Regions from separate parts of the Homo sapiens genome. Here regions 1, 2, 4 and 5 are each linked to region 3. Evidence: fine-mapped expression QTL. A gene starts in region 3. Each other region holds a variant in brackets. All regions are shown on one strand. Distances are from middle to middle.

The links. PIP is the estimated chance that this variant, and not a neighbour inherited with it, causes the effect. A credible set is the group of variants that fine-mapping cannot tell apart.
Region 1: its variant is the best candidate, but not a certain one, in a credible set for the expression of STEAP3 in lung (TOPMed, PIP 0.58).
Region 2: its variant is the best candidate, but not a certain one, in a credible set for the expression of STEAP3 in cerebellum (GTEx, PIP 0.67).
Region 4: its variant is the best candidate, but not a certain one, in a credible set for the expression of STEAP3 in whole blood (GTEx, PIP 0.55).
Region 5: its variant is the best candidate, but not a certain one, in a credible set for the expression of STEAP3 in T cells (TOPMed, PIP 0.77).

What each region holds. Positions count from the first base shown.
Region 1 is chr2:119,060,347-119,064,462 of GRCh38, forward strand. No RefSeq gene overlaps it. Among named protein-coding and RNA genes, the nearest start is that of C1QL2, 96 kb to the right of the region's middle. The variant T/C (reference allele first, on the strand shown) is at 2,490.
Region 2 is chr2:119,178,253-119,182,368 of GRCh38, forward strand. All of the region lies in intron 2 of LOC107985941 (a long non-coding RNA gene), which reads right to left. Among named protein-coding and RNA genes, the nearest start is that of C1QL2, 22 kb to the left of the region's middle. The variant G/A (reference allele first, on the strand shown) is at 2,108.
Region 3 is chr2:119,221,444-119,225,559 of GRCh38, forward strand. It overlaps STEAP3 (STEAP3 metalloreductase), which reads left to right and starts at 2,391. Exons shown (of 6, transcript NM_182915.3): 1 at 2,391-2,445. RefSeq lists silencers at 2,134-2,913, 2,974-3,043.
Region 4 is chr2:119,280,287-119,284,402 of GRCh38, forward strand. It overlaps a transcript of C2orf76 not described here. Among named protein-coding and RNA genes, the nearest start is that of STEAP3-AS1, 33 kb to the left of the region's middle. The variant A/G (reference allele first, on the strand shown) is at 2,532.
Region 5 is chr2:119,256,994-119,261,109 of GRCh38, forward strand. The region is part of intron 5 of STEAP3 (STEAP3 metalloreductase); the gene reads left to right. Among named protein-coding and RNA genes, the nearest start is that of STEAP3-AS1, 10 kb to the left of the region's middle. RefSeq lists an enhancer at 2,423-3,196. The variant G/A (reference allele first, on the strand shown) is at 1,892.

The DNA of each region.
Region 1 (4,116 bases), 160 kb before region 3:
AGTGACATAATGGCCTATGAAACCATCAGCACATTCCTGGCCCTTAGTAAGACAAGCCCAAGTAATTATACCTAACATTATAATCGTGTATACTGTCAAATAACTCTAGATGGAAAAGCTGTTTCAAAATGTGTGTCCTGTTTCACCAGGGTGAAGTGGTGGAAAGAGGACTGGGAGGGGAATCAGAGGACATGGGAGTGAGTCCTGGTTCTGTGAATGACTACCTTTCACTGCTTTTTAAAATCCTGTGCTCCTTCTTGGGTTTGTAAAATAGATGCAGACTGTTCAAGAAATGGGCCCCAGAGAACATCACATACCGGGGCCGGTGGGTGGGTGGGGGGTTGGGGGAGGGATAGCATTAGGAGAAATACCTAATGTAAATGACGAGTTGATGGGTGCAGCCAACCAACGTGGTACATGTATAACTATGTAACAAACCTGCACTTCGTGCACATGTACCCTAGAACTTAAAGTATAATAAAAATAAACAAACACATATGATATTCACTATTGTTAAAAATCTCAAAAAAAGAAAAAAGAAATGGGCCCCAGCAACCCAGGAGAGTCTTTGGGTGGGCCCTGAGGGGTGCTCTGCTAATTGCCCAGAATGTGGGTCCACCCCTCTCTGGCTGACCTCACCTGCCCCAGCTTTCTGTCTGCCTGGACCCCACCGCTCTCCTCCCCACCCCTTGCTCAGATCTTGGATACGTGTCTGTGGGTGTGCCCCCAGCTCCCTTTCTTGGGATCCTGTGGCCTTTTCCTCTGGCTTCATCAGCTCAGTTATGGGAGGAAGGCTGTCTCCTTTCCCACAGCCCATCCTGCAGGACTAGACCAGCGAGGCCAACACCCAGCTTGTCCACAGCTATCCTTTGAATGTTTGTGCCCCCTGCAAAATTCATGCTGAAACTTAATCCCCAATACAACCATCCTAAGGGGTGGGAACTTTAGAAAGTGATTATACCATGAGAGATGGGATTAGCATCTTATAAAAGGCTGGAGGAAACTAGCTAGGCCCCTTTTCATCTTTCTTTTCCTTCTGTCATGTAAGGACAAAGCATTCGTCCCCTCCAGAGGATGCAGTAATAAGACACCATCCTGGAAGCAGAGAGCAGCCCTCACCACACACCAAACCTGCTGGCACCTTGATCTTGAACTTCCAGCCACCAGTAAGAAATAAATTTCTGTTATTTGTAAATTACCTACTCTCAGGTATTTTATTATAGCAGTAGGAACAGATTAAGACACCCATGCTAAAATTAGGATGAGTCCATTTCCCCACCCATAAAATAAGGATGTTGAGTCAGATGCTCTTGAAGGTTCCCTTCAGCTTTCACATTTTGTGGTCCTGGCTCTTCTTATTGGTGTATAGAGGACTTTTGTTGTTGTTCTTCTTCTGTAAAATGCAACCTGTGAATGCAACCAAGAGACAGGTGGCTGTAAAGGTATGAGTTGCGCTGGGGGAACTGAAACCCCGGATTAATTAAATCTTCTCCAAGTGTCTCCCATTTATCTCACCCCCACTAACTTTTGGGCCTGTCGATTGTGAGAACACTGAGCCGCAGAATTGAAGCAAGATGATCCCCAACCAAGTCGTCAGCTGACTGCTCCACCCTGGGGTGGGGGTGGGGGGGGCTGCTAGGAGTTGGGGGGAGCAGGGGCCAGGGCTGGAGATGGTCAAAGCAGAGACCCTTCTGAAGCAGCCTCCTAAGGGTGGAAAGTGAGACATTGCCAGTGAGCCTTCCCTAAAGGCACCATCTGGCTGCCCCTACCCCAGGTGTCAGAGCCCCTGAGGTGTATTCTACAGCACGAACAGCTCTAGCTGCACTCTCTATCCAGTGGCTGCTAGTCACAAGTGGTTATTTAAATTTCAAAGATTAAAATTGAATTCAATTTTTAAATTCATTTCCTCAGTAAAATTAGCCCTCTTTCATGGGTTCAGTAGCCAGCTGTGGCTATTGGCTACCATACTAGACAGCACTAATAGGAAACATTCCCTTCATCACATTGGAATGTGTATGGCACTGCTCAGAGCGTAGGAAAGGAGGCAACAAATTTCCCTGGCATGAGAAAATGCTGAAGATGGACGTAACAGACACCCTGAGGTCATACCTCAGTTCACTCTGAAGATGTGCTAGCATGTCTTACAATGTCCCAAACCTCCTATTGGACTCCAGTGGGCAGAGGGGTCAGGCTGTTCTATTAAATGGGGAGCTGTCCTAAATGTCAATATCAACTCAGGATGGTCCCTGAAACCTCAGGCAGTTTCCTGTCTTATGGAGCTCTCCATAAGATGGAAGTGGGGGATTGGTGGGAGATGGCAACTGGCATTTTTTTTTAACATTATCTGCATGCCAGGAGTTCTGCTAGATGTTTCACATGTTTATTTAGTCCTTACAACCAATCAGTGAGATGAGGTAAGTTGCCGTCCTCCCTAATGGCTCCTTGAGATCAGGGACTGCTGAGTTAATATTTGCCAAGTTCTTAGATTA[T/C]TGCCTGCAACACCGTTAAGTGCCATACAAGTGTTTGTGAAGAAAGAATCCACAGAATTCAGCTTTCGGTGTTCCAAGCAAGTTAGTGGCAGAGTAGTGGATAAAATCCAGCCCATGTCAGCTCTCCAAGGCTCTTTCTGTTACACCATTGGCTTGGAAGTCTGACAAAGAGGACATCAGGTTTTTTTTTTGGACATCTTATCTCATTCTCTCTTCCTAATAGCATTCTGACTTTCTTTTGGGAAGCCACTATTTCCTACTTTGGATAGTGCTGGAAATCTATAAACTGTGGTGCCCTACCCTGTCCTGACCAAGAGACAGGAGTTAAGCCAATGAGACTCTCTTTTAGGACTTTGAATCCTGAGCCCAAAGACACAGTGTCGGAAAGCCTTGTGGGAGCTCCCTTGCCCCAGCATCAGTGCCTGGCAGAGAGTTGTGCAGGTTCTGCTGCGAGGATCCCCAGAGCTGGCCTGCTGTCATATGCTCTGTTTTTAGCCTGGTTCTCCAGCTTCCTGAACGTCTTTGAGCTGCCTGATAGCCTTCATTTGATTCCCTTTTTGATAGAATGGCAAGAGTTGTTTGCTTTGGCTTACAATCAAAGAAGCTTGACTGACCCTCCTTGAAAGGAACACAAAGTCACAGCCCTGAAAAAGAATTGCTGGGAGGAACATGGAGATGAAAGAAACTAGAGTGGAAAAGAGACTTGGGTCTCAACAGCCATTTTTCTATCCCTGAATGATCCCAAATGATTCTTCGTGGAAAAGCAGAGGTGTTGAAGAGTGATGCGATAAATAGGGCAATTGGCCCTAATTCTTCACCCTCCCTATGTCCACATTCTTTGTCATGTGATTTTGCAATTCCTCCCACTAGAGGTGAAGTATATTTTTCCACTTCTTGAATTTGGCTGTGTGACTCTCTTCTCCAAAGATACACTGGTGAACATGATGCAGGCAGAGGTTTGAAATATGCTGGTATATTTAAGCTGGCCCTCTTGTGCTCCTGCAGCTGCAATGAGAATGGCATGCCCAAGACCTGTGGAGCAGATCTGGACCCAGTAGATTCCTAGAATCACCTGTGGAGCCTGAGCTCAGCAGAACTCAGCTAACCTACAAATAAAAGAGTGAAAGTAAATGCTTATTTTTTTAAGCCACTGACTTTTGGAGTTGTTTGTTATGCAGCATTATTATTGCAATAGCTAGCTGATACAGGCAGACTGTAAATCAAGGTGCTAAAGTCCTCTGATAAACAGTAGCATAATTATAAATAATAATTACAATAACCTTTTATTAATCCTGTTTCAGGTACTGGGTATTCACTTTGCATGTGCCATTTCATCTATCCATCACAAGCAACATTGCATTGGTGCTATTATTTTCATTTTATAGACAAAGACCCTGAGGCTCAGACTCGATGAGTGACTGATAAACCTCATACATAGCAGATGGCAGGGCTGAGCTTCAAAGCCAGCTGTGTCTATCTCTGCTTACTGTGGCTTTAATCCCTCTCCACTCCTCACCCCACTCCACTGCTTCCCATGGCTCTGCCACTGGATTTAGATGCCTCTACTCAGTTCAGCCCAAGTATGATATATATACAATTTTAGGCCCAAGAATTTTATCTCAGGAAC
Region 2 (4,116 bases), 43 kb before region 3:
TTGCAAATGCCCAATTCCTTCATTGGCTGGGGAGGGCAAAGCCTAAATGGGCAGTGGGCTATAGATGGTGGCCTTCCAGGCACTGGCAGCAGGACACTTCAGGGCATCATTCAAATGCAGAGGGGAGAGCATTCTGCCCAAGGGCAGGCCTATTTGGGGTGGGCAGGGCAGACTTACAATGGAGACTACCATACTTACGTGGCTCTCTGCAGGCCACGTGACCCCTTCCCTCTGCTCCATGTGCCCAGGATTCAAACTCAGGCTAGTCTGATTCCCAAAACTGTGGGCCTCAGTTTTGGGAAAACTGAGAAAATTGGGCCTCAGAATAGGGATAGGGATGGAGATGGAGATGGAAGAAAATAAACCAGGCCCTCTGCCTGATCCCCTCCCTACTTTGGCTCTGGGGTTGGGAGATGCTGCAGAGGCTTCATCCACTCTCTGCCCCGACCCCCTAACTCCCTCTCCTGCTCTGTCCACTGGGCTGGACCCTGTCTGCTGGGCCTATCAGGGCTCCCCGTGTGTCCTCCACCAGCCAGCAATGGCCAGAGAGCCCAGCTGGCCCCAGCCTATCCCCTGCCCACCCTGGGCCCTGCTCAGAGGACAAGGCTGAACTGATTCTGTCAGGAAGGGTTAGTCTTGTCTCAGGCCTGGCTGAATGCAAAAGGACGAGACAAATGCATGTGGACAGCCTCGATCCGGAGTGCTCTGTCAAACATGCTGGCCACCTCTCCGGGAAGATCACTCAGACTCCTTGCATCCCATCTTGGGAAGGCTGGCCTGAGGCTCCAGAGAGATGTTGGGAGATGCCAGGTGCCTGCAAGCCAAGGGCCCTCCGGGGAAGGGTGTCAGGACCCGCTGCTTCTTGCCTCTTGCAGAGAGGGCAACAGCTGGCTCCTTCTCCTGCCCCAGGTGAAGACTGATCAGATACTGATTCCAGGATGAATCCAGCAACATTAGGCCCTGCCTGGTCCCATGGTAGCATCTGGCTGGGCTTTTGGCCTATAGTCGAGTAGATAGAGGGAGGGCTGATAACTAAGTGACTACAACAGGACCTCCCTGTGTAAGGGTTCTAGCTTATTTCCACACTCTTCTGGCACAGACAGGTTGGCAGGGCAGCTGGTAGCAGGCACAGCAGATGGAATGTCAGGAATGAAATCCACAAGACTCCAAGCCCCTCCCAGGGTGAGCTTGCCACAGGCCACACCAGGAAGCTGAGCTCCTCACCCAAAGCCTGCCAGTGCCTACGTGGCAGTCATTCCCTTGTCAACAGACTTCCCACTGGCTTCTCTTGCTCCATTATTAAAAGCAAGAACCAAAAACTTCACTGAGGGGATAGAATCCCACTAATAAGCATGTCCACGCTTTGGGTCATCTTAGGGGCACAGAAAATCTGAGTATCCCCCATAGCATCAGGCAGAGCAGATTTCTTGTCAATTAGCTCAGTTGGTTGGAGGCTGCAGCCATGAACATGCTGGCCTCAGGGCCCTCACAACACAGGTGGGTTAGGGAATGAATGAAAGTTCAGCTATTATTCCTGCCAGAGACTCCAGGCCCAACCTGGCCTCTAATGAGCTATGTGACTTTGGGCAGGCAGAAAAGTGTCTCTGCTATGGTTTGAAGGCATCCCCCAAAGGCCTCCAATGCAACAGTGTTGAGAAGGGGGACCTTTAAGAGGTACGTGGGTCACGAGGGCTCTGCCCTCACGAATGGATTTGTCCTCATCGCAGGAGCGGGCTCATTATCATGAGAGTGGGTTGGTTATAAAATTGAATGTGGCCCCATTCCTTCTCTCCCTTTCCCCCATGTAAGGCCCCACCAGACATGGCCCTCCAGTGGTGGAGTTCCCAACCTCCAGAACCACGAGACAAATGAACTGTTATTTTTTCATAAATGACTCAGCCTGCAGTACTCTGTTACAGCATCACAAAATATGCTAAGACACCCCTGAGACTCATCGGCCACCTGTCTGTCAGCTTTGCCGCAAAAATGATTTGGGAGCAGCTATAGTCAACTTTCCTCAGACTACCTCCTGCTGGCACATTACGGCCACCTGCTGTGTGCCTGGTGTTTTTCTAGGTTCTTGGAATAAAGTGAACAGGCCGGGTAC[G/A]GTGGCTCACGCCTGTAATCCCAGCACTTTAAGAGGCTGAGGTGGGCAGATCACCTGAGGTCAGGAGTTCGAGACCAGCCTGGCCAACATGGTGAAACCCCGTCTCTGCTAAAAATACAAAAATGTGCTGGGCATGGTGGCAGGTGCCTGTAATCCCAGCTACTCGGGAGGCTAAGGCAGGAGAATCGCTTGAATCCGGGAGGCAGAGGTTGCAGTGAACCGAGGTCTCGTCAGTATACTCCAGCCTGGGCAATAAGAGCAAAACTCCAAGTCAAAAAGAAAAAAGAAAAAAGAAAAAAAAAACAGAAAGAAAGAATAAAGTGAACAAAGCAGGCAAAAATACCTGCCCCCAGAAAGATCACATTCAGTGGATGTGCCCATGTTCCTTCCTCTTCCTAAAGCACTCACAAATATCAACATTCCCCTGAACTCACCACTGAGAGTCACTTCTCAGCGTGACAATGTTGACCAGTCTTCACCTGCTGTGTAAAGCAGGCCTGCCCTATAGTGACCCCCCAAACAGGTGCAGAAGGCAGGTCCACCATCAGCCCATGGCCAGCACACCAGTTAGATACCTGCTGTTGCCAGGCAGCTGTCTGCCAGCCCGTAGGCACTAGAGAGCCTTGGGGCCTTTCCTGAGCCCTTTTAAAGAAGTGCTTCCTTTAGACATGGACTCTCAGGCCTGCTCAGAGCGGGGAGGGTGCTGCTCCGCCCCAAGGCCTTCCCTCCATCCTTTCCTCTGGCAATCACCGTGATAGCAGCAACGCCCAGCCTGAGGCCTTGGGTGCTGCTTCCCTCAGGAAAACTGGCCAAAGAGTAGACAGCAGATACTTTCTCCATATTCCCACCCCCACAACACAGGCCAGCAGCACAGCAGCTGTAGACAAGATTTCATAAAGAACTGGAGGACAAGAAAGGGGAGATTAAGGAGCCCTAGGCTCTAGGGCCTGGCTCACACAAGAATGGTCTTCCTCCTGCCAACTTCTTGGCCTTTACAAAGGCCCCACCTGACCCAGCCCAGCCTCCTGGGCACTGGCCAAGTTCCACACCAAGACTACCAGACCCCGCCAAGTCCAGGCTCAAGAGAGAAAGCCAGACCCTCTCTCCTTCCACCTACCTGAGAGAGGCCTGTCCTCAGGTGTCTGGCTCACAGATGGGGGACCCAACTGGGAGTCACTCCCTTCTGGAAGCCCCAGGCCCTATAAACAGGTCCCCGGCCTCACTGCTGGGCCTCGGCCTGGAGACAGCGGCTCAGTGCAACACAACCACGCCAGAGCTGATCAGGGGAAACCCACGCAGCAGTTGAGGGGGCTGGGGCTTTGCGGGTGCAGTGAGGGGACTGCTTCCCTTCAGTGGAGTTGCTGCCGCAGGTGAGGGGAGGAAGATGAATCTGAAGGTTCTAACGTCAGCCCACAGGCTGAAGCGAAGGCTGGCCTGAAGTGTTCCACCTGGGCCCCCACCTGAGCGGCTGAAGAGTTCTGTTTCCTCAAGGCCCACAGAGCTCCTCAGAGGGAAGCTTTAGTAGCTATTTCCTTAGGAAGGCAAGTATGTGTGCAACATTTCCTAATAAAATGCAAAGGCTGTTGGAGGCACTCCAGCCCCCTCATTTAGCTCTGAGGTGTAATTAATACATAAATTAAGCTCCTGCAGACTCACAAATGTCCAAGAAAAAAAATGAAAAATATAATTAGTTTGCCCATCTGACTCCATCTGTCAGCTCTGAGCTCAATGCTCAACGTAGCAAATCCTGAGGGCTTTGGTCTCGCATTGGCTGGGCCCGGCGCTGCTCCTGCCCTGCTCCAGGGAAGTGGGCCCTCCGCAGCAGCTGCCCAGAGCCCGGGCTCTGGACTCAGCCTCCAGGGCAGCAAGGACTCTGGAGTACACAGACTGCAGGCTGGGAGCCGGGGCACTCGGCAGAGCAGCCAGGACCTTCTCTGTGGCCCTGAGCGCTGGCTAGGGGTGGCAAGGGCACCCCGGGGAATTTGCATGTGCCTCTTGCTGCCATGTTC
Region 3 (4,116 bases):
AGATTCATCTGAGGTGGGACTGAATGTGAGCAGAGAGAGGGAGACAGAGGATGAGGGCAGAGAGAAGGCCAATCACACTGGGCCACGGCTATTGCAAGGACTTTACTTTTGCTGGGGGAGGGGGTAGAGTTTTGAGCAGAGGAGAAATGCGATCTGGCAAACATCTTGCAAGGATGGCTCTGACTGTTCTATCCTTGGCAGAGGACACCAGAGTCTGGCCCATAGAAGGTGCTCAACAAAGCTCAGCACATTGCACTCCTCCCTGGAGTAGGAAAGGGCTCGTCTGCTTTGGGAAATTTGGCTCTCAAGCTTCTGGAAACACCTGACCCCATGCCAGGTGAGACAAGCTCACACTCAAGGCCCCCTTAGTCCAACGGTCAGTGGACAGAACAAGCACCAAAGGTCAACGGCGTGGGCGGTGGCCTCTCTGCCAAAGTGTGTGGGCCCAAGTAGGGTATTCACCTCCCTCCCTGTCTGTGAGAAATTTCAGACCCCTCTACTTTTTCCAGCAGGAGTTCATGTTCCTTTTAAGATAATCCTCTATAGACCTCTGGCAGCCCAGCCTTCAAAATGTCTCCCCCTGTCTCTCTTACTCATGGAGAGCCCCGCTTCCCCGCCTCAAAAAAAAGTCTTCCTCTCTCTTACTCATGCATGGAGAGCCCCACAAAAAGACACTGGTTCCCAGGGATTCTTCCAAAGATGCTGGAAGACCTCTCAGTGTTTGCATTTCCCAAGCTCGGTTTCCTTGTGCTGTCCTTGGGCATTAAAGGAAGGCTATTCAGCCATCCCCATCAGCAGGAGCAGGCATCAAAAGAACAGCTACTGCAGGGGGAGCATATTAGGGGCACCAGAGGGGGCTAGGAACTGGGTCTTGTCTTCTCAAAGTTTACAACCCACTGCAGGGGCCACTCACCAGCCCTGGCACCCTAAGGGCAGGAACCTCCATTGGGCACGTGTGTCTCCAGCACTGGGAGCACTGTCTGGCACCTGGGGCACTGTGAGTGTTGAATGGATAAAGGACCTGTAAGAATTGCCATAAGAGGTGTTGCCCTGGGGCAAGGTGGGACAGGAAAGTTCTTGCAAGAGAAGAGAGGCTCTGGCCTTGGGCCCTGGCTGAGCAGAGAGCTGGGAGGTGGGTATTCGGGTAGGAGGAAAGCTGTGGAGGGGGAAAGCAAACTGCCTGCGGGGGTGGGGGGGTTCTCGGCGGGAGTTGGGGGTGGAGGGAAAGGCGCTTTACAGCAGCACTCCCTCCACAGGGAGACCAGAGCTCTGCCTCTTCCTCCCCACCGTGCCCTTTGGGGTCCAGTTGTGGGGCCTTCCTTGAGGCCCAGCTCCTGCCTCTGGCCTCCGGAGGCTTATCTCCCCAACAGAGGCTGGCTCCCCAGAAAACAGGATTCTTAGACTTCCTAAAAATAACCTGAAGCTCCTTATCAGAGGCTAATAGTGTATGTCTCCCAGGAATACTCTAGAAAGAGTACCAGGGGTCAGGAACCCCCACTCAGCCTCCACGAATCTGAGCGGAAAAGCCCGGGTCTCCTCACCTGTAAAGAAAATAACTGCAGCCGGCAAATGTGACCACAGGTGAGAAGGGGCTTCGGACCAGGGCGCACACCTCTAGAGAGGTGCCCACAGACAGCCTCCCCTTACTTACGCCCTGCTTCGCTGCAGTGCTGTGAAGCCATCGGCATTGGAAGTGCGGAGGGCAGCGGGCAGTGCCCCAGGGGGAAGGGGGGACGGGTAGGGTTTCAGAGCCCAGAAGGCCTAGACAGGGAGGCAGCTCCGGGAGAAAGGTACCCGCCATCCCACCGGTCTTGGAACCTGAGGACTGCTGGGAAGGGTCAAAAGTCTGCCCTAAGGGTGGACAAGGGACAGAGATTGGGGGGGGACCACAAAGGCCTGGGCGCAACCTTGTTGAGAGGGAAGGGATCCGGACCCAATCTGGAGCCCTGGTCTCTTCCCACCTGCAACCGTGGCTGCCACTTGGCCTCGGTTATAAAATGGACAAGGATTCGAGGTGCTCCTCAGGTTAAGAGAGGGGGGCCTAGAGGTCACCCTGGCCTCGGTGCCCTCCGTGGCCGGGTTAAGAGGAGGTCCCGGAGTTCTGCTCACTTCAGCCGTGTGCCGGGCACTGCAAATCAGGAAGTGTTGGCGCCGGCTGGCGACCTCCCGCCTGGGGCCAGGGGAGGAGGGTGGTTGGACGCTGCCACCGCTGCCGGGGCTGTGCAGGGCTGGGCGGGGAGCGAGGACCCGGCGGCTCCTGATTGCGGCCCCGGGGGAGGTGGCCGAGCCGGATAAGCTGCGGCGGGCTGGAGGGCGGCCACCTCCCCTGCAGGTCCGGCCCTCCCGGGCGGGTGGGGCGCGGGGGAGGAGGAGCCTCGGGCCGAGCCACCGCCTTCGCCGCGGACCTTCAGCTGCCGCGGTCGCTCCGAGCGGCGGGCCGCAGAGGTGAGTGTACCCTCCCCCGGTCTCCGCGGGGCTGCGTGCTGCGCCCGGTCCCCGAGACGCCCGCCCGGTTGCACCCTGCGCCGTCGCTGCGCGGACCTCGGGTGCCGCCACACGTCTGGAGGCGACTTCTGTCCCCTGGGACCGAGCCACGTGCGCCCGGCGGCAGAGAAACCGGGTTCCGGGGCCCCCACCCCGTGTGCCTTCCTTCCCTAGGCGTGGAAGCCGCTTGCGCCGCGCAGGTTAGGCAGGGCCGGCGGCGACAGTGGCGGGGAGCAGGCTCCGGAGCCCCGGGTGCAGATGTGGGCGCCCCTCCGGATGACCCCGGCTGAGTCCACAGGTCCCGTGTGCCCCACGGCTGGGGCTCTGGCCAGCGGTCCCAAAGGAGGGCTGGTAGCTGTGGGCGGGGATCTTCCAGGCTCTTCCTCGCCAGACCTCCCAGTCCCTTCGCAGCCGAACAGGGCAGGGACAGGGGCAGGTGCAGGGGCTGGGCAGGGGCGCCCGACCTTGGTCCCCAGGAGGAGGCTGGCCTCACCAGTGCCCGCCTCTGCCCGCGGAGCCCTTGCCTGGCAAAGTTCCCCCTCCTGCCCGGCAAAGCTCCCCCTCCTGCCCACTTCCCCGAAATTTGGGGACAGGCTGCCCGGAGAGGTGTGGTTGGAACTTTGGTCACTCTGGGTAAATGAAGGGGAGGGTGTGCCCAGATAATATGCGGTTTGGGGACCAGAAAGCCGGATCCGTGGGGAGAAGCAGGAAGGTCCCGCTGGAGCCCTGGCAGAGGGCACAGAGAGGCCTCCCAAATATCCAGGGCCACCTCAGAGATGGGCTCCAGAAGTGGGGATTCTGGAAATGCCCCCAGGGAGGTATTTCTGTCCATCAGAGTGCAGCCATAATATAATTAACAGCAGATATTCCCATTTATGTGTGCCAGGCATCTTGCTAAGGGCTTTGAGCACAATATCCCAGTTAATCCTCACAACAGGAAGGCACCATTATCTCTTGTTAAAAATGGGGAAACAGCCTCAGAGAGTCCACGTATTTTGCAAGGATACACAGCTAGGAAGTTGCAGAAGTAGAATTTGAACCCAGAGTTATCTGACTTGGAGCCCAGAGGAACCTACCACTGGGGCGAAACAGGCTGTGTCCTCACGGGGATTCTGGCAGCCCCAAGAATACAGTGCTGAGAGCCAGAAGGTCCACAAAACCAAAGGGTCTCACCTGGGTGTGTCCTCTCAGTCACCTGCAAGGCTTGTTAAAAATATAGATCCCCAAGTCCCATCCGAAGCTGACTGAATCAGCTAGGGGCACCTGGAGGACCCAGACTATGTCTTACTCATCTCTGTCCCTGGTGGCCTGCAGAGGGGCTGGCAAGGAGCAGGTGCTTAGTGAATGTCTAATGGGTAAGTGGGCGGGGTGGGGTAGATGGTGTCACTAGTGTCCTGAAGGGGGCTTAAATGGAGCAGGTGGCCTCAGCCAGGCAATCCGGCAGCAGGTATGGAAGTGACACAGTCTAATGCTGGCCTCAGAGCCAGCAGGGAGCTCAGGCTGGGCCACTTGTCCACCTGGGGGTTGAACAGCCTGCCCCAGGTTTGCTGAGGTCCCCAGGACCAGGCCAGGTCAAGCTGGGATCACACATGTTCCCTCTCCAGCCTAGAGATGTCAAACAGGTAGATTCCT
Region 4 (4,116 bases), 59 kb after region 3:
TGTTTGTTTGGAGACGGAGTCTCGCTCTGTCTCCCAAGCTGGAGTGCAATGGTGCGATCTCAGCTCACTGCAAACTCCACCTCCCGGGTTCAAGCGATTCTCCTGCCTCAGCCTCTGGAGTAGCTGGAATTACAGGCGCCCACCACCACACCTGGCTAATTTTTGTATTTTTAGTAGAGATGGGGTTTCACCATGTTGGCCAGACTGATCTCGAACTCCAGACCTCAGGTGATCCACCTGCCTTGGCCTCCCAAAGTGCTAGGATTACATGCGTGAGCCACGGCGCCCGGCCTGAAAACATTAATTTTTAATGTTCCCTATGGAGAGGCAGCATAGCACAGAGGTTAAAAACACAAAATCCAGGCCAGACATGGGGACTCAGGCCTGTAATCACAGGAATCCGGGAGGCAGGAGGATCACTGGAGTCCAGGGGTTCAAGACCAGCTTGGGCAACATAGTGAGACCCCATCTCTACAAAAAATTTTTTTAAAATATTACTCAAGCTGGTAGTGCACAACTGTAGTTCCAGCTTCTCAGGAGGCTGAGTTGAGAGGATCACTTGAGTCCAGGAGGTCAAGGCTGCAGTGAGCCATGATTGCACCACAGCACTCCGGCCTGGCTGACAGCAAGACGCTATCTCTAAAAAAAAATGGTAAAAAAAAAAAAAGGAACACAAAATCTGGAGCCACACTGCCAGGGTTTCAGCACCACTTCTACTACTTCCTAACCCGATTTAACCTCCTCTTGCCTCAGTTTCCCCAGCTATAAAATGAGGGTGATTATAGTTCTTACCACATAGGTTTGTAATTAGGTTATGAGAAAAATGACAGCTTCTCTTTTAACTTAATTTTATTTTTAGCTTTTATTTTAGGTTCGGTGTTACACAGGAAAACTCATCTCATGGGGGTTTGTTGTACAGATTATTTCATCACCCGGGTATTAAGCCCAGTACCCAAAAGTTATCTTTTCTGCTCCTCTCCCTCCTCCCAACTTCCACCCTCAAGTAGGCCTCGGTGTCTGCTGTTCCCCTCTTTGTGTCCACGTGTTCTCATCATTTAGCTCCCACTTATAACTGAGGATATGTGGTATTTGGTTTTCCGTTCCAAGAGTTTCTCTTAGGCTGAGGTGGGAGGATAGCTTGAGCCAGGGTGGTCGAGGCTGCAGTGAGCTGCCATCCTGCCACTGCACTCCAGCCTGGGGTGACAGAGTGAGACCCTACCACAAAGAAAATAAAAAGAGAGAGAGAGAGAGAATGAGAATGACAGAGAGAGAAAAAACAGTTTCTCTTTTTAAGGTATTTAAAACAGATCTTCCACAGAGTAAGTGCTATATAAGCGTTTGCTAAATAAACATCCTAACATGAATAGGAAACCGTTATTACTGGCTATAAGACCTTAAAGCAGTTACAACCTCAAAATAAATAAAAACAAAATAATATGATTAAATTCTAGCTAGATTTTTTACCTGCTAAAATGCTTGGTGGAGACCCGCTCTCAAAAGAACAGAGAGAGGGAAGCAAGTGAAGTCTTAAGGACGTTGCCATCACCAAACTGAAACCTCTTCCTCACTCAACCAGAAGACCTGAAAGAAAACTGAAGTAACAGTAACTGTCTTACTGCGCTACCCACCCTCAACCATCCCCAGGCCCACTAGGAGCATGTTGTACATGTTCTGGAAAGTTCTGGAAAGGCCATTAAGATATAAAAATTGGTAGCCAGGTGTGGTGGTGGACGCCTGCAATCCCAGCTACTCGGGAGGCTGAGGCAGGAGAATCACTTGAATCCAGGAGGTGGAGGTTGCAGGGAGCCGAGATCATGCCATTGCACTCCAGCCTGGGCAACAGAGCCAGACTCCGTCTCAAAGAAAAAAAAAAAGATATAAAAAGTTGGGAAAGTGAGAGGTGTCCCGAGAAGCCCACATACATGAAAAATGAAACCAGGCAATCCTATGTGGATCTATTTATCACAAACGCCGCTGGGCTGCAAGTGAAATCTCTTATACCAATAGGTCGGCTCTGATGCAGGGAGTCTGTTTTCACTTTGAACTGCTGTTCATGGCGCTGCCAGGGTGGGACTGTCACTCACCAAGCCTCCTTCCTGTCCTTGGTCTGGGGTGATTCGGCACTTCCCAGTAGGTGACTCCAGATGACAGCCAACAGCCAGCTTGCTCCTGTTCTCTTTCGCAGGCAGAGCTGGCTCTTAATTTTCATGCATTTATTCTTTAGCCACTTGAGACGCCTGGCTGGAGGGATGGGTAAGAGATTTGGCATCTTGGTGCCTCCAAGCCTCCCGTCCAGCATGGTCCAGGTTAACAAACACCTGTAAAGCGTCCGTCTCTGCCGGCCCTGACGGACAGGGTGAGCACCCCGGTGCATCCTCCCTCCTAAGAGGATTAAGCGGGGTGTTTGGAAAACAGAGCTGCATCCCTGGAGGGAAGGTGCCACAGAGACATCAACACACAGTTCTGCATAATCGGTTCAACAGCAGAACAACAAAAAGGGGAAGAGAAGATTAAAAAATAATCCAAATGTC[A/G]TAATACTGAGGAGTGTGATGAAATGGGCAATCGGGTGGAAGCATTAAACCTAGAATCACTAACCACCCCCGCTTCACTCTTCAAAACTCAAGGCTGCGGGGGGAAACAACATGCTCGTCCTTGGGAGAGCTCCTCTAAGCCCCTCCTGAAAGACGGATGTCCACTTCTGAGGCTGTCTTTGAGGATGGGCACAGGGGAAGCTGTGGCAGTCCAGCCACTCTGCGGGGATGTCATGAATAATTAGCAGGGTCCTTCACAGTGGAGGGCAGCCCTAGTCTCTCTCCCTCTTCCTTGGTGGGAAGGAAGCCCAAGTCCCTGAGAGACACTGGTGAACATCTCCCTGGAGGCTTTGGGCTGACTGTCAACAGTGGCACCAAGGTGTAGCTCGGGGCAGGGGTGCAGGCGCTTAGCACTCAGCAAGATCTGTGGGCCTCCTCCCTGCCTCCCATTCTTTGTCATGAGCTTGGCAATGGAAGCTTCCAGTCCGCCTCTCAGTGCTGCACCCCCTCTGCCCACACTCCTGGGCATCCAGCCCAGGGCCTGCCTTGGTGCCAGCTCTGCCCTTCCTGCCTCCTCCTTCCTGCTTTGCCTTCTCCCCCTCTCTCTTCCCCATATCCATTTCTATTTTACAATGGTTCTTTTGGTTTTTTTGTTTTTGTTTTTGTTTTTTTCTTGAGAGGGAGTCTGGCCCTGTTGCCCAGGCTGGAGTGCAGTGGCGCCATCTTGGCTCACTGCAGCCTCTGCCTCCTGAGTTCAAGCGATTCTCCTGCCCCAGCCTCTGGAGTAGCTGAGATTACAGGCGCCCACCACCACGCCCAGCTAATTTTTGTATTTTTAGTAGAGATGGGGTTTCACCATGTTGGCCAGCCTGGTCTTGAACTCCTGACCTCAAATGATCCAACCGCCTCAGCCTCCCAAAGTGCTTGGATTACAGGTGTGAGCCACTGCACCTGGCCCTATTTTACAATGTTTAATGACCCAAACTTGAGGATTTTTCCACTTCTCTACACCATATAATCAAATCAAAAAATCAGATATTAGGCTTTGACAATGGGACTGAATCTTGGAAACTGGAAAGTCCAGTCTCAGGACATCCCGGAAAGTTGAGCACACAAGCAAGTCCCATGCAACTGTGTGATGAAACAGCCCCACACATCCGGGAGCACAGCCAAGGCGTCCTGTGCCACCTCCCTGGTAGAATCTGGCTTTTCAACTTGCTCACCCATGAGAGGAAAGCGGTTTTAGACATCAGGCTTACCCCTCTCCTAAGCCACACCCTTTTCTCATTCCCAGCTGAGGAACTGAGCCTGAGACACTGAGGTTCCCAGCTGCCTCCATGATTCGCCAGCACCCAGCTTCAGTTTCACATCCTCCCAATCGTCATAGCCAGGACAGCATGCCTCACTGACCACGAGGGAATGTCACATCCCGCCTGGCTGAGCCATGCCGCAGACAGGCTCCTGGCTAAGCACTTGGCCGACACCCCAATATTCAATGCTGACACACCACAAAGGCATAAGTAGGCTAATTTTGCGGATGATGAAAATAGGACTCAAACCAAACTGTGTACAGTTGTAGGGCTTA
Region 5 (4,116 bases), 36 kb after region 3:
CCAACCACCGATTTCTGAGTTCAGTAGGAGACAGTGAGACAGAGGCCAAGGAACCCCAACCCTGGGCCTAAAAGTGGTCCAGTCAGTGTTTGCAAACTGGCGGACACTCACTAGTGGGTCATGCAATTGATTCCATGGATCACAAGCAGCATTTTAAAAATGAAATAAAATAGAATGACAAAGAAAACAGTGGAGTGTTTTGCATGGTGTCGGGATACTTTTTCAGTTATATGGAATTGCTAGTTTTATTTGCAAATGTAGCATACCTCGTTGTCTACCGGACAGCAGAGTAAAACATGGTTCTTACTGTGAGTCCCTGTCAAATAGGCTGAAGCCAGAGCCCTCTTGGAGAAACAGAGATAACCCAGGCCTGCCTCCCATCCGTGGACTCAGATGCTGAGGGATGGCTCTGGCAATCTATTTTTGCAGCTCCCTAAGTGACTGATAGGTGCGCATGCCGCAGTGTGTGGCAACTTCCAGTGCAGGAAACACAGGCAGTGGAACCCGAAGACCTGAATCTCAGTCCCAAGACCCCCACTTACCTGCCCCGCATCATCAGACAAGTTTCCTAGGCCCTCGGAGCTTCTGCTGCTCACTTGTGCCTGTGTCCACCCCATATGGTCATCAAGAGGATTTGAGCTGGACACGTTAAATGCAGGATGCGTGCAGCCAACAGTGGCATGCTGGCTTTTGAGGTAAGCTGCAACCTTCTCCTTTAAAGTTAGCGTGGCTAGTGAGAAGTTACCTGAGCCCCATCACCCTCCCCTACACACATGTCCACAGCAGACACCAGGCTATGGGGACAGCCATGGTTCTTGAGGGGCCTTGGCTGACCCCTAGATCTGTAATGCTTTTGTTACCGGAAAAGGGTCCCGATCCAGACCCCAAGAGAGGGTTATTGGACCTCACGCGAGAAAGAATTCAGGACCTGTCCATAGAGTAAAGTGAAAGCAAGTTTATTAAGAAAGCAAAGGAATAAAAGAATGGCTACTCCATAGTCAGAGCAGCGGCATGGCTGCTCAGCTGCTTATACTTATTGTTACTTCTTGATTATATGCTGAACGAGGGGTGGATTATTCATGAGTTTTCCAGGAAAGGGATGGCAATTCCCAGAACTAAGGGTTCCTTACCTTTTTAGACCATATAGGGTAACTTCCTGACATTGCCATGGCATTTGTAAACTGACATGGCGCTAGTGGGAGTGTTTTTTAACATGCGAATGCATTATAATTAGTGTATAATGAGCAACGAGGTCACTCTCGTTGCCATGTTGGTTTTGGTGCTTTTGGCTGGCTTCTTTACTGCAAGCTGTTTTATCAGCAAGGTATTTATGACCTGTATCCTGAGCCGACCTCCTATGTCATCCCGTGACTAGCAACGTTTAACCTCCTGGGAATGCAGCCCAGTAGGTCTCAGCCTCATTTTACCCAGCCCCCCATTCAGGTGAAGTCTCTCTGGTTTGAACACCTCAGACACTTCGTTTAGCTAAAAACCATTGAAACAGTGTATTGATTCCACAAAGAGGTGACTTGTGCTTGCATTTATCCTTTTGTTCCCAAATCTGTTTTCAAAGTTTTACATGTTGTTTTGTGTTCCTTTGGGTATTTTTTTTTTTTTTTTTTTTTTTTTTTTGAGACGGAGTCTCACTCCGTCACCCAGGCTGGAGTGCAGTGGCACAATCTCGGCTCACTGCAACCTCTGCCTCCCGGGTTCATGCCATTCTCCTGCCTCAGCCTCCCAAGTAGCTGGGACTACAGGCGCCCGGCACCACACCTGGCTAATTTTTTTTTTTTTTTTTTTTTGTATTTTTAGTAGAGATGGGGTTTCACCGTGTTAGGCAGGATGGTCTCAATCTCCTGACCTCATGATCCGCCTGCCTCGGCCTTCCAAA[G/A]TGCTGGGATTATAGGCGTGAGCCACCGCACCCAGCCTTCCTTTGGTATTTTTTTGTTATTGTTTTGGTTTGGTTTGGGTTGTGCTAAGTGTTTCAATTCAGCCAGTTTTAACTGGCTGTTAGATATTAGACTGCAAAATACTCCAGTCAGAGCAGCTCACCTGCGCAGAAAAATGAGGGTTCAGCTTTTAGAACCTAAGTTCTTTCCCAGAGTTAGAGGAACTGCCTGTGACCTTGCCCACTCCAGCCACCTGCCTGAAATAATGACAAGACCAGCCTGACCCCAGCTTCATGAGCAATTGTCCAAAGCCCCTTTGTGCCGTAGTAATTGAGCACCAGCAGGAGCTACAACGACCTGGCTGTTTCTTTTTTGCTAACAAGCTTACGTATAATAAAAATGGCTCTAGCTTGGGGATCTTATTAATCGCCTCATGACAATCCCTCTCCTTTTGGGCTTCTTTGGGTTCTGGGATTTTTAAATTGTTCCCAAGGAGAGTTTTTGGGAAACAAACTCCCTGGAATCATGCAGGCTTCCCACTGGGACAGGAAAGTCAAAGGCCCTTTGTTATTGGCTGGCCTTTGGCTGTCAGCCCTTGCTATGAACCACTGGCCTGAGGCTGGAACTTCCTGCTGTCTGCACCATGGGATTTTGAATGGCACAAGAATGAGGCTATATGAACAGGAGGAGCTGACTGCCACTGGTGGGCCTGGGAGCAGCGTCTCCACACTGTCCCTGTGCAGAGCCCAGAGTGCCCAGCAAAATTCATCACTCTCCAGATCAGGGGCTGGGGACAGTGGCCCACACAGACCAAACACTGGAGCTACAGGGCATGTCACCCGAGGGAGATGCAAAGACCTCACTGGGGCTACTAAGGCTGGCTTTCCAGGCCTGGATGGGCTCCCATTGCTGCACCTCCTGGGAAAGCCCACGACACAGAGGTGGGCGCCAAAAGGCTCTCAGTGGGGCTTTGTCTAAGGAACAGATAGGTCCAGGTCTTCCTCAGGCAAGTGACCTGAGCAGAGGGGCCCGTGTGGACTTTTCACCCTGAAGCTAGAAGGGTGTGGTGACGACAGTCTCCTAAATGAGTGGCTTTAGTCCTAGCTGCCCATCAGCCTCATCCGCCGAACCTTAAAAAACAACAGATGCCCCGCCCCAAACCAACTTAATCTGAATTTCTGGAAGTGGGGTTTGGGCACTAGTATTTTACCCAAGCTCCCCGGGTGATTCTAATGTGTAGCAAGGTTTGAAAACCACAGTCTAAAAGCCACAGACTGTTAAACTCTTGGGGATAAAGGGCATCACCCAGCCATCTTGGCAACACCAATAAGTCCACAATGAGGAGGGGTGGGAGGGCCCACAGTTAGTTAGGGCTGGGCACCTGGCTGGGGAACATCAGGGTGATTGACTTCAAGACTTACTCTTTTTTTTTTTTTTCTTTTTTTTTGAGACGGAATTTCACTCTTGTTGCCCAGGCTGGAGTGCAATGGCGTGATTTTGGCTCACTGCAACATCCACCTCCTGGGTTCAAGCGAGTAGCTGGGATTACAGGCATGCGCCACCACACCTGGCTAATTTTGTATTTTTAGTAGAGACGGGGACGGGGTTTATCCATGTCGGTCAGGCTGGTCTTGAACTCCCAACCTCAGGTGATCTGCCCGCCTCGGCCTCCCAAAGTGCTGGGATTACAGGCGTGAGCCACCGCACCCAGCCAAGACTTATTCTTGATGGTCAGTGCTGGGGACTTTTTTAACCACAGTCTTCCACACTAAGAGATTAGAATTTAGAAAAGTTGGGGTGGCTCAGAAGTTGCAGGGGATTTGGAATTCTTGACAGACACTTCTGGAAGTGGCAAGGATTTGCTTATGTGCAACTGACAGTCAAGGAGTCTTCTCTTTGGGAGGTGACCACATTAAAATGATAGGAATTCACTGTGGGTGACAGCATAAAGCCAATCGTGGCTTCCTCACTCTTCGTGGTGAGCCAGAAGTTGTTAAAGACTGGGCCAAGAAGATTCCAAAAATGGACACAAAGCCAAGAAGAACCAGAGAGGGTGAGGAAGGATAGAGAAGGTTTTATTTGGTTATTTTACTTGGGCCCAAGAATGTTGAACGTGAGAACCTGTCTGTGAAATTGTAGTGTGCAGCCATTGGAAAATGTTTATTATTATCTTTAGCAAAAGCTTTACAAGCAATTCTCCCACACCATGTTCTTTCACTCACTGACG